3 separate regions of the Homo sapiens genome follow, and regions 1 and 3 are each linked to region 2. Evidence: fine-mapped expression QTL. A gene starts in region 2. Each other region holds a variant in brackets. All regions are shown on one strand. Distances are between the middles of the regions. Region 1 has its middle 100 kb from the start of LINC00839. Region 2 holds the start of LINC00839 (long intergenic non-protein coding RNA 839). Region 3 has its middle 670 kb from the start of LINC00839.

The links. PIP is the estimated chance that this variant, and not a neighbour inherited with it, causes the effect. A credible set is the group of variants that fine-mapping cannot tell apart.
Region 1: its variant is the best candidate, but not a certain one, in a credible set for the expression of LINC00839 in prefrontal cortex (BrainSeq, PIP 0.63).
Region 3: its variant is the best candidate, but not a certain one, in a credible set for the expression of LINC00839 in hypothalamus (GTEx, PIP 0.78).

Annotation. Positions count from the first base shown.
Region 1 is chr10:42,372,584-42,376,831 of GRCh38, forward strand. No RefSeq gene overlaps it. Among named protein-coding and RNA genes, the nearest start is that of LINC00839, 100 kb to the right of the region's middle. The variant A/ATACT (reference allele first, on the strand shown) is at 2,589.
Region 2 is chr10:42,473,611-42,477,858 of GRCh38, forward strand. It overlaps LINC00839 (long intergenic non-protein coding RNA 839), which reads left to right and starts at 1,881. Exons shown (of 5, transcript NR_026827.1): 1 at 1,881-2,270; 2 at 3,651-3,832.
Region 3 is chr10:41,804,247-41,808,494 of GRCh38, forward strand. No RefSeq gene overlaps it. Among named protein-coding and RNA genes, the nearest start is that of LINC00839, 670 kb to the right of the region's middle. The variant C/T (reference allele first, on the strand shown) is at 2,380.

The sequences.
Region 1 (4,248 bases), 100 kb before region 2:
TCTTAGAGAAAATGCTGTGTTAAGAATGTCATCTGCTTCTGAGGACAAATTTATCTGGTTAGCTTTACCTAAAGGTCTCTGATGTATATAAAATTCTGGCAGGGCTTAGTGGCTCATGCCTGTAATCCCAGCACTTTGGGAAGCCAAGGTGGGCGGATCATGAGGTCAGGAGATCAAGACCATCCTGGCCAACATTGTGAAACCCCTCTCTACTAAAAATACAAAAATTAGCTGGGCGTGGTGGTGCGTGCCTGTAATCCCAGCTACTCAGGAGGCTGAGGCAGGAGAATCACTTGAACCAGGGAGATCACGCCATTGCACTCCAGCCTGGCGACAAAGCGAGACTCTGTCTCAAAAATAAATTAATTAATTGATTAAGTTAAATAAAATTCCAAGAATCTGGAGAGGACCTTCTGAAATGTAAGATTATAAACCCAGGGGTTCAAGGTCCCAAAGTTCTGCCACAGTGTGGATAAAAAGGAGATATTCAGTATCTTGGTTATAGATTATAATGGGATTATTGTCCTTCAGTTGGTGGACCATTAAAAGCTTTCTTTACCTGGAAAAAAATATGCCTTGGCATAATGCATTAAAGCCTTGCTGCATTAAACCACATCACAATTTAGTAACAGAAAATACATGCAGTTCTATTATTAAGTGAATGGACCTTCCAATGAGTATTTCTTAAGGGTCAACTGATGTTGTCCACACTAAGTGGATCAGATTGTCATCAATCTGCAATACATTTGACCAAGGTAATCCAGTCAATTCAGTTATCCTTGCTTAATGCTGTAGCATCTGTAATAATTCATTTTACAGTTTTACAACTTTTCCAGTGAAATAAGTACTTCTATCATTGAAGGTTTTATCAGAAATGTCCAATGAAAAAACATATTTTCTAATAACATTTTAGTTACTGTTGTAACATCAGCCTTCTTGCATGGGAAAGTTTTTATACAACCAGAAAACATGCATTGAAAATGACAATTGAATAAAACCTGTGTACAAATGTTTAAATGACCCATCAGGTTTCAAAAATATACATGAAGTTTTAATTGTCTTCCTAGAATTATAGATTTGATAAACCAAACAATGGTTATAAACTATGTTAGCAATTTAAAACAATCACCATACATACATGACACACACACACACATTTAATTTATTTAATTTGGATTATTTTTTCTCTTCCATGAGTCATGAAATGCAGAGCTTTTAATAATAAAAGCCTTGAAGACTCAGGAAAAACCAGGTAGCTGTCTAGCTTCTCCACAAGTTCATGTTTAACAGTGGATTCATGTCCTTTTAAATACCAGGTTTGTTTCTCCAATTTAGATGCATAGCACTAATAACTGATGGCTTATCATAGGGAATTTGACTTGAACCACAGAGTTCATTCAAATTGCATATCTAAACAATCTCAGCACTGGCTAGTTTAGTATGAAAATCTGGCAAAACATTTTCTTGGTATTCAATTAATTTTTGTCTCGCTTTGATTAGGAGTTTTATAAGTCATTCCCTTCATTAGAGTTCTGAGGGTTGTTACCCAGTCCAAATGATACAATCCTAAAGTTATCTAAAACCTGTATGCAACATGTCTGGGTTCTTACCACTCTTTTCATGACCTCCTTAAAGACATAACACTCTAATATTTTGTGTGCTTGTGAAGTTTTTAGAAACTGCATCAGAATTAAGTCAGTAACTATAGATATGACTTAAAATGGTCATACTTAAATACACAGTTGGTGGCTGGGCGCAGTGGCTTATGCCTGTAATCCCAGCACTTTGGGAGGCTGAGGTGGGTGGATCATTTGAGGTCAGGAGTTCAAAACCAGCCTGGCCAACATGGTGAAACCACGTCTCTACTAAAAGTACAAAAATTAGCTGGGCATGGTGATAGGCGCCTGTGGTCCCAGCTACTTGGGAGGGTGAGGCAGGAGAATCACTTGAGCTCGGGAGGCAGAAGCTGCAGTGAGCCGAGATCGCACCACTGTATTCCAGCCTGGGAGACACAGAGAGACTCAAAACAAACAAATAAACAAAAAAGATACAGCTGTCAGGGAAATTTGGTTATATCTGTGGCCTACAGTAATTTATCAAAATAACCATAATTATAACTGATAGTGTACATTCAGATATATTAGAACTTTAGAAATTCCACATAATTTTGGAACAAACATTAATAACATATTTATTAAAAGATAACTTGAGGCCTAGCATGATGGCTCACTCCTGCAATCCCAGCACTTTGGGAGGCTGAGGCGGTGTATCACGATATCAGGGGTTTGACACAAGCATGGCCAACATGGTGAAACCCCATCTTTATTAAAAATACAAAAATTAGCCAGGTGTGGTGGCACCCACCTGCAGTCCCAGCTACTCAGGAGGCTGAGGCAGAAGAATCGTTTGAACTGAGGAGGTGGAGGTTGCAGTGAGCTGAGATCGGGCCACTGCACTCCAGCCTGGGCAATAGAGCAAGACTCCATCTCAAAACAAAAACAAACAAACAAATATATATAAGTATGTATACACATATACACATATATGTGTATATACGTATATACACATATATGTGTATATGTGTATAC[A/ATACT]TATATATATTTGTTTGTATATGTGTATATACGTATATATGTATATGTGTATATACGTATATATTGTATATGTATGTGTATATATATATAACTTGAAGAAAGTTAAACATCATTATTCATTTGACAATAATTTCCATGTAGTTTAACATATTCTGTAATCCCATTTACCTCTTTTTTGGATGCTGCGGGGTCCCTCTGTAACATCCCAAAGTTGAGTAAAAGAAAAGACAATTTTGGAGCTCAAATTTGATGTTGGGAAGCCTGTCAAATATGTCAAAGGTTTAAAACATTTGACTAACATATGATCAAAGGTCATCACAAAATAACAGTCATTCATGTAGCCGAAGGAATAATTAAAATAATTTAGGGCTGAGCATGGTAACTTATGACTGTAATCCCAGCATTTTGGGAGGCTGAATAAGGAAATCTGGCTGTCCTGGTTTGAGCCCAGGAGTTCAAGACCAGCCTGACAAAACCCCATCAGTAAAATATATATATTTTTTACTATATATAAAAATATATAATATTATATAATATATATGAACATAATATATATAAATATATAAATATTACTATGCATATAAATATATATATATGGGTGTGTATATATATGTGTATGTGTGTGTATTTTATATATATATATAAATTAGCTGGGCACGGCGGTATGTGTCTGTGGTCCCAGTTACAGAGGAGGCTGAGACGAGATAATTGTTTGAGCCTGGGAGGTCAAGGCTGCAGTGAGACATGATTGTGTCACTGCACTCCAGCCTGGGTGACAGAGCAAGATCCTGTCTCAAAAAATGTTTTCAAAAAACAAAACACTTTACTCTTTGATAGAGGAGACTCAGTTTTCCAATAAACAGACTTGAGAAAAACAGCGTGAAATAAAGTCTGTCTTTTCTCTACTCTCCTTTTCGTTTACTCAAAAGGTGAACAAAAATATTTGCTTTCTTTTATTAATAATACATATCAATACAATTTTGTTCAAAAATCAAAGTTTACTTTTATATTAGTTTATCAATACTAAAGCTATTTTTAAATAAGAACTTATAAATAAATCTATCAAATCTGTCATCTTTTGACCACACTAGATTTCCATACATTTTTATAATTTCTTGTAATTAAATTTCTTAAACTTTTTATATTTTAGTTTTATCTGCATCCTTTTTGTGCTTTTAATTTGAAACAATCTTTTGGTAACTTTAAACTGTTACCAGATGATCCAGACCCCAAAAGAGGGTTCTTGGATCTCATGCAAGAAAGAATTAGAGGCAAATCCATAGAGTAAATTGAAAGCAAGTTTATTAGGAAAGTAAAGGAATAAAGAATGGCTATTCCATAGGCAGAGCAGTGGCATTGGGCTCTGGTTGCCCATTTTATGATAATTTATTAATTATATGCTAAACAAAGGGTGAATTATTCATGAGTTTCCTGGGAAAGTAGTGGGCAATTCCTGGAGCTGAAGGTTCCTCCTGTTTTTAGACCATATAGGGTAACCTCCTGATGTTGCCATGGCATTTGTAAACTGTCATGGTGCTGATGTGAGTGTCTCTTAGCATGCTAATGCATTATAACTATCATATAATGAGCAGTGAGGATGACCAAGGGTTACTCTCATCACCATCTTGGTTTTGGTGGGATTTGGCCAGCTTCTTTAACA
Region 2 (4,248 bases):
GTAAATGGTATGAAGAAATCAAAACAGGATGAATAGTTGAGCCACTCAAAGTTACAGGGAGCAAACTAAGTGGGAAAATAAATCGTTAACAGTTACAAAAACTGGAAATGTGCTTGTATATATGAGACAAATTGTCCATAAAATCAACTTGTTTATCTGACATTGGCTGGCAAGGATCTCCCTGTACTAGTAACACAGACATTCAACTAGATTAGGAGTCATCCAGCAACTTTTCCTGAAAATGGCAAAACAGTAAACATGTTTGGAGCTGTGGTCCACATCATCTATTCCATATTCTACTCGACCTCTGCAGCATGAGAGCAGCCATAGACAACACATAAACAAGTAAACAGGGTTACGTTTAAACAAAACTTTAAGTATAAAAGCAGTACTGATAGGGTTTTTGCATATGTTACTTTAATTATGACTTTAATTGCTTAAAGTATTTCCTGGAAACACGAAGTTGTTAACAAGTGTTAGTTATTTTTGTTTGAGAGAATTTCAAGAGATTGAAATTATCAACAGAGGAATGTGAAAGTCGTTGGGCATTAAGCTAAGCCATAAAAACTTTACCCTGAAAATCGTGGGGGTGTCCTTGAATGCCCACGAGTTTAATTTCCATTTTCTGCCTGAGGTTTTAAGGAGTATGCAGGATTAGGAGGGTAAACACTCATAGCTCATTAGTCTAACAGTGAAGAAACCATGAGGGCCTAGAGTAATGGAAAGGCAATGAAGTGAAAAGACAGTTAAAATGTGTAATTTTCCAAATACAGAACTGAGATATTTAAAAGGATTGTATGTGGTGGTTGGGTGCCATTACAAAGGAGGTGGATGAATTTTAGGCGTCTAGATTTGTGGTGCTGATGGTTGGGCAGGGGACAAGCACACAGGGAAACAAGGAAAAAAGATGTATTTAGGTTTAGGTAAAAATATCACATGCTCAGTATCCAATTCCTGTTAAACACCTGGAGATGGGAGTCTGTGGTGCAAAGGGAGTTCGAGTTTAACTATACACGATTGGGTGATGCTGGCATGCAAGGAGAGATGAAGCCATGGATTTCATTAAGGACCCCAATCTGAATGTGGACCGCACACAAGAATCAGAACCAAAACCTGGACACAGCCAAGACTGCAGGTTTCTCTTCCCTTGCTCCAAATCCACTTTCAGAAGAATTAGAGAAGAATTGACTAAAGAATGTAAGTAAACTCCAGGAAACAGGGTTCCACAGAAGCTGGGGAAAGGTCAGTACGTGGAAGAGAGAGATCAGTAGTACCTGCTCGCTACAAGGAGGCGCCTCCAAATGTCAATGCCTATTTTCAACAAGTGGGACCCAAAGTGATTCATGCCAGTGCTCTAAAATACACCTGACCCTTGAACAATGTGGGGGATATGGATGCTAACCCCCCACAGTCAAAAATCCAAGTTTAACTCTCAACTCCCCCAAAGCATAACTCCTAACGGCCTGCGGTTGACCGGAAGTCTTTGTCACTAATAATACAAAAAATTAAGACCTATTTTGCCTGTTATTCACATTACACACTGAATATGCTGCTCCCAGCGGAGGCCGAGACTCCTGCCCGGGCACCCCCTCACAGCCCCCACTCCAGCCTCCCCAGACTCACCCTCGGCGGGGCCACCTTCTTCTCATTTCAGTCTGGGGCCACATTCTCCGGGCCTGCGGGGCATGGCAGGAGGCAAAGCCAAAGGCGAAGTGGCCACAAATTCCGGTGGGGGCGCTGGCTCCTGCCCCACCCCAGCATCTATACCCTGAGTCTGATAGGACGAGAAGGAACATTTCAGCCAGCCCTGATTGGGTCATATTATCCAATCAGAGTTGTTTTGCACAGTGGCTCTCATCCAATCCGAACATGCCTTACAGGATATCTAGTTAAATAAGTCATTATAAATAGTTGCTCCGTGGGCTTTCCGCATTTCACCCTGCTCCAGGCAGCGTGGTCTGTATGGCTCCGCCCTGGGCAGGAGGAGAAAGAAGAGGGCCAGGCACCACGTGCCTGCACTCTCCCTGGATGCTGGAGGCTGCTCCGCCGTGGGCAGGAGGAGAAGGAAGAGAACTGGGTGCCGCCTGCCTGCACTCTCTCCGGATGCTGGAGGCTGGAGGCAGTGAGGCAGCAACAGCGCGAGGGCGAGGCGACTTTGGAGCTGCCTCATGCAGCGACCTCGCCTTCCGCTGCGCCTCCTCCCAGAACCCAAGAAGCCTGGAACCTGTGGCGTCCAGCCCTGAAAGGAGGAGACGGCAACCCAGCCGCGCGTGAGTCCGGGAGTCTGGGATACCGGCGGCAGAGGAAGGACAGGCAGGAGTCTCGGCCTCTCGGGGAGCGACGTGCCGGGAAAGGCAGGAGGGCCCCAGCGGTGGGGGCGGGGGTTGCGCGCCGGGGAGGGCGGCCTCAGGCTGGGAGCCTGGCAGATCGTCTGACTCTCCCCGAGCCCCATCCCAGGCCGAGCCAGGACCCCTCTGATGCACAGGCGTCTCAGGAGCCCGTTTCTTTCTTGAATCCGGGGCCCAGTGCGGCTTGAACCTAGCCCCCGACCTCCTCCTCGCCCTCTCAGAGTCCGCTGGGGTGGGCGCTGAAGGAGCCCGGGTCGGAGAGGAGCCCTCCCCTTCTCTCCTGCGTGGAAGCCCTGCAGCCTCCGTTTCTTTTGGGACTGGGGTCCGGGGCCTTCTGCCTGACCCGGGGTGAGAAAGGGAGCCCTGATCAGGACCCGGTGAGAGGGCGCTGGAGCCCGGGAGCGGCAGGAGCCTTGAGCGGCAGCCCGGGAAGAGGATGGGGTCACCTTCTGCCCCAGGTCCCCCACTGCCAGGATCTCTGTCACCTTCTGGGGGTCCTGTCCCCTGGGGTCCCACCCCCCGGGCTGCCTGTGGGTATCTCTCATCTGGAACTGGAAATAACCCTCTTCATAGTACGGCTTAGCAAATATTTATTCGCCCATGCACCCCCCTTTTTTTTCCTTCATAGTGTTCTTTTTGTCTTGGATCATTTGTGTTTTTCCTACATTGATGTGAAGCATTTTTAAAGACACTTTAGAGATTAGTCCTTTATTGGTTCATTTCTATTGTAGGTTGTTGTTTCCTACTCTGGTCTTTGTTGTTTAATTTCAGTTTTAATTTCTTGCTTGGTTTAGTTCATGTAACAATATTTTTCTTAGAATATTTGTATCTGTGTTTGTGAAACAGAACATCTATTATTTCTGGGTTTTTTATTGTCTGATCAGATTGTGTATTAATGTAATGCTGGCTTCTCGAAACAAATTGAAAAACCATCCCTTTCGTCTTTCTCTTTGAGAGAGAGTGAGCAGTGTCAATATTTTTTTCTTCCTTAAATATTTGGAACATTTTCAAAGTCTGATCCTGGTGTTTTCCTTGTGGAGCATTATTGTTGATTTGTTGGATTTTTAAAATTAGTTAGTTAATTTTGTTTAATATATATAGGAGTGTTCTTATTTTATGCTATTTTTGTGCCAGTTTTAGTAAGTTGGGTTCAGCATCTGTTGCGATCTCTGTTGTCAGACTTTTGATCATATGTATTTCACAAAATTCTCTGATTATCTTGTTATAATACTGTTATGTAGAGTTGTTGTTTTGATTCTGATACTGGTCACTTGTGTTCTTTCATCTTTTTTCCTTAATCAGTTTTGCCTGCACTCTCCCTGGATGCTGGAGGCTGGAGGCAGTGACGCAGCAACAGCGCGAGGCGACTTTGGAGCGGCCTCATATAGCGACCTCGCCTTCCGCTGCGCGTCCTCCCAGAGCCCAAGAAGCCCGGAACCTGTGGCATCCATCTCTGAAAGGAGAAGACGGCAACCCAGCCGAGGGTGAGTCCGGGAGTCTGGGGTGCCGGCAGCGGAGGAAGGACAAGCAGGAGTCTCGGCCTCCCGGGGAGAATTTCACAAAATTCTCTGATTATCTTGTTATAATACTGTTACGTAGGCTGTTGTTTTGATTCTGATACTGGTCTCTTGTGTTCTTTAATCTTTTTTCCTTAATCAGTTTTGCTAGTGGTTTATTAACTATGTTGTTTATAAAAACAACTTTTAGCCTTGGTTTATTTGTGTTATGTTTTTTTTTCCATTTCATTGATGTTTGTTATCTTTATTATTGCCTTCATCCTGTATTCTTTGCACTTGATTTTTCTTTCTTGATTCTTGAGAAAAAAGTTGAGGTGCCGGGCACGTTGGCTTACGCCTGTAATCCCAACACTTTGGGATGCCAAGGTGGGTGGTCAGGAGTT
Region 3 (4,248 bases), 670 kb before region 2:
GTTTCCTGACTTTTTAATGACTGCCATTCTAACTGGTGTGAGATGGTATCTCATTGTGGTTTTGATTTGCATTTCTCTGATGGCCAGTGATGGTGAGCATTTTTTCATGTGTTTTTTGGCTGCATAAATGTCTTCTTTTGAGAAGTGTCTGTTCATATCCTTCACTCAATTTTCAATAGTTTTTTTTTTCTTGTAAATTTTGTTTGAGTTCATTGTAGATTCTGGATATTAGCCCTTTGTCAGATGAATAGGTTGTGAAAATTTTCTCCCATTTTGTAGGTAGCCTGTTCACTCTGATGGTAGTTTCTTTTGCTGTGCAGAAGCTTTTTAGTTTAACTAGATCCCATTTGTCAATTTTGGATATTATTGCCATTGCTTTTGGTGTTTTAGACATGAAGTCCTTGCCCATGCCTATGTCCTGAATGGTATTGCCTAGGTTTTCTTCTAGGGTTTTTATGGTTTTACATCTAACATGTAGTTCTTCAATCCATCTTCAATTAATTTTTATATAAGGTGTAAGGAAGGGATCCAGTTTCAGCTTTCTACATATGGCTGGCCAGTTTTCCCAGCACCATTTATTAAATAGGGAATCCTTTCCCCATTGCTTGTTTTTCTCAGGTTTGTCAAAGATCATATGTTTTTTGATATGTGGTGTTATTTCTGAGGGCTCTGTTCTGTTCCATTGATCTATATCTCTGTTGTGGTACCAGTACCATGTTGTTTTGGTTACTGTAGCCTTGTAGTATAGTTTGAAGTCAGGTAGCATGATGCCTCCAGCTTTGTTCTTTTGGCTTAGGATTGACTTGGTGATGCAGGCTCTTTTTTGGTTCCATATGAACTTTAAAGCAGTTTTTTCCAATTCCGTGAAGAAAGTCATTGGTAGCTTGATGGGGATGGCATTGAATCTATAAACAACCTTGGGCATTTTGGCCATTTTCATGATATTGATTCTTCCTACTCATGAGCATGGAATGTTCTTTTATTAGTTTGTATCCTCTTTTATTTCGTTGAGCAGTGGTTTGTAGTTCTCCTTGAAGAAGTCCTTCACATTCCTTGTAAGTTGGATTCGTGGGTATTTTATTCTCTTTGAAGGAATTGTGAATGGGATGCAGCCAAAAAACACATGAAAAGATGCTCACCATCACTGGTCATCAGATAAATGGAAATCAAAACCACAATGAGATACCATCTCACACCAGTTAGAATGGCAATCATTAAAAAGTCAGGAAACAACATGTGCTGGAGAGGATGTGGAGAAATAGGTACACTTTTACACTGTTGGTGGGACTGTAAACTAGTTCTATCATTGTGGAAGTCACTGTGGTGACTCCTCAGGGATCTAGAACTAGAAATACCATTTGACCCAGCCATCCCATTACTGGGTATATACCCAAAGGACTATAAATCATGCTGCTATAAAGACACACGGACACGTATGTTTATTGCGGCTCTATTCACAATTGCAAAGACTTGGAACCAACCCAAATGTCCAACAATGATAGACTGGATTAAGAAAATGTGGCACATATACACCATGGAATACTATGCAGCCTTAAAAAATGGTGAGTTCATGTCCTTTGTAGGGACATGGATGAAATCGGAAATCATCATTCTCAGTAAACTATCACAAGGACAAAAAACCAAGCACCGCATGTTCTTGCTCATAGGTGGGAATTGAACAATGAGAACACATGTACACAAGAAGGGGAACATCACACACTGGAGACAGTTGTGGGGTGAGGGGAGGGTGGAGGGATAGCATTAGGAGATATACCTAATGCTAAATGATGAGTTAATGGGTGCAGCACACCAGCATGGCACATGTATACGTATGTAACTAACCTGCGTGTTGTGCACATGTACTCTAAAATTTAAAAAAGTATAATAACAAAATAATATATATATAGAACAATATTTTAAGGAATAAAAAAAGAAAGAAAAACAAACGTTTACATTTGTGAGATAAATTCACACATCACAAAGTATTTTCTGAGAATGCTTCTGTCTAGTTTTCATGTGAAGATATTTCCTTTTTTACCATAGGCCTTAAACTGTTCAGAAATATCCCTCTGCATATACTACCAAAAGACTGTTTCCAAACCGCTCCATCGAAAGAAAGGTTCAACTCTGTGAGATGAATGCACACATCCAACGAAGTTTCTCAGTAAGATTCTGTCTAGATTTATATGAAGATATTTCATTATTCAACGTAGGTCTCAAAGCTCTGAAAAATGTCCCTTTACAGATTCTAGAAGAACAAAATTTCCAAACTGCTCAATGAAAATAAACATTTACCTCTGTGAAATGAAGGTGAACATCACAGAGCAGTTTCTCAGAAAGCTTCTGTCTTGTTTTTATGTGAATATATTTCCTTTTTCA[C/T]CATAGGTCTCAAAGCACTCACAAGTATCCCTTTGCCGATACTGGAAGATTCGAGTTTCCAAAGTGCTCTATGAAAAGGAACGTTTACCTCTTTGAGATGAATGCAAACATCACAAAGCAGTTTCTCAGAAAGATTCTTTCTGATTTATATGTGAAGATATTTCCTTTTTCGCCATAGGCCATGACATGCTCCCAAATATCCCTTTTCAGATTCTGCAAAAAACACTCTTTCCAAACTTCTCAGTCAAAAGAATTGTTCAACTCTGTGAGATGAATGCATACATCCAAAGAAATTTCTCAGAAAGCTTCTCTCTAGATTTATGTGAAGATATTTCATTTTTCAACATAGGTCTCAAAGCACTGACTAATATTTCTTTGCAGATTCTATAAGAGCAGAGTTTCCAAACTGCTCAATGAAAAGAAACATTTACCTCTGTGAGATGAATGGGCAAATCACAAAGCTGTTTCTCAGAAAGTTCCTTTGCAGTTTTTATGTGAAGATATTTCCTTTTTCACCATAGGGCTCAAAGTGCTCACAAATATCCCTTTGCAGATTCTAGAAGAACAGAGTTTCCAAACTACTCAATCATCAGAAAATTTAATCTCTGTGAGATGAATGCACACTTCACAAAGCAGCTTCTCTAAAACTTCTTTATAGTTTTTATGGGAAGATATATTTCCTTTTTCACCATATGCCTCAATACGCTCCCAAATATCCCTTTGCAGATTCTGAAAAAAAGACTGTTTCTAAACTGCTCAATCAAAACAAAGGTTCAACTCTGTGAGATGAATGCACACATCACAAAGAAATTTCTCAGAAAAATTCTGTCTAGTTTTTATGTGAAGGTATTTCCTTTTTCACCAGTGCCCCTAACCACTCACAAATATCCCTTTGCAGATACTACAAAAAGACTGTTTTGAAATTGCTCAACAAAAAGAATGGTTCATCTCTGTGAGATGAATGCACACGTCACAAAGAAGTTTCTCAGAAAGCTTCTGTCTATTTTTTATGTGACGAAATTAACATTTTCATCATAGGCCTCAAAGCGCACAAAAATATCCCTTTGTAGATTTTAGAAGAACAGAGTTTCCAAACTCCTCAATAAAAAGAAATATTTAACTCTGAGAGATGAATGCACACATCACAAAGCAGTTTCTCAGAAATCTTCTTTCTAGTTTTTATGTGAAGATATTTCCTTTTTCACCATAGACCTCACCGTGTTTGTAAATATCCATTTGCAGATTCTACAAAAAGACTGTTTCCAAACTACTCTATCAAAACAATGATTCAACTCTGTGAGATGAATGCACTCATCATACAGAACTTTCTTAGAATGGTTCATTCCAGTTTTTATGTGAAGATATTTCGTTTTTTACAGTAGGCCGCAATGCGCTCCCAAACAATCCTTTACAGATTCTAAAAAAGACAGTTTCCAAATTGCTCAATGAAAAGAAAGGTTCAACTCCATGAGACGAATGCACCCATCATGAAGAGGTTTCTCAGAAAGCTTCTTTCTAATTTTTATGTGAAGATATCTCCTTTTTCACCACAGGCCTCAATGAACTCCCAAATATCCTTTTGGAGATTCTACAAAAAAAGACTGTTTTCAAACTCCCCAATCAAAAGAATGGTTCAAATCTGTGAGATGAATGCACACATCATGAAGATGTTTCTCAGAAAGCTTCTCTCTAGTTATTTTGTGATGATATTTCCTTTTTCACCATAGGCCTCAAAGCACTCACAAATATCCCTTTACAGATTCTACAAAAGGTCTGTTTCCAAACTGTTTCCAAACTCCTCAATAAAAAATATGGTTCATCTCTGTGAGATGAATGCACACACATCACAAAGAAGTTTCTCAGAAAGCT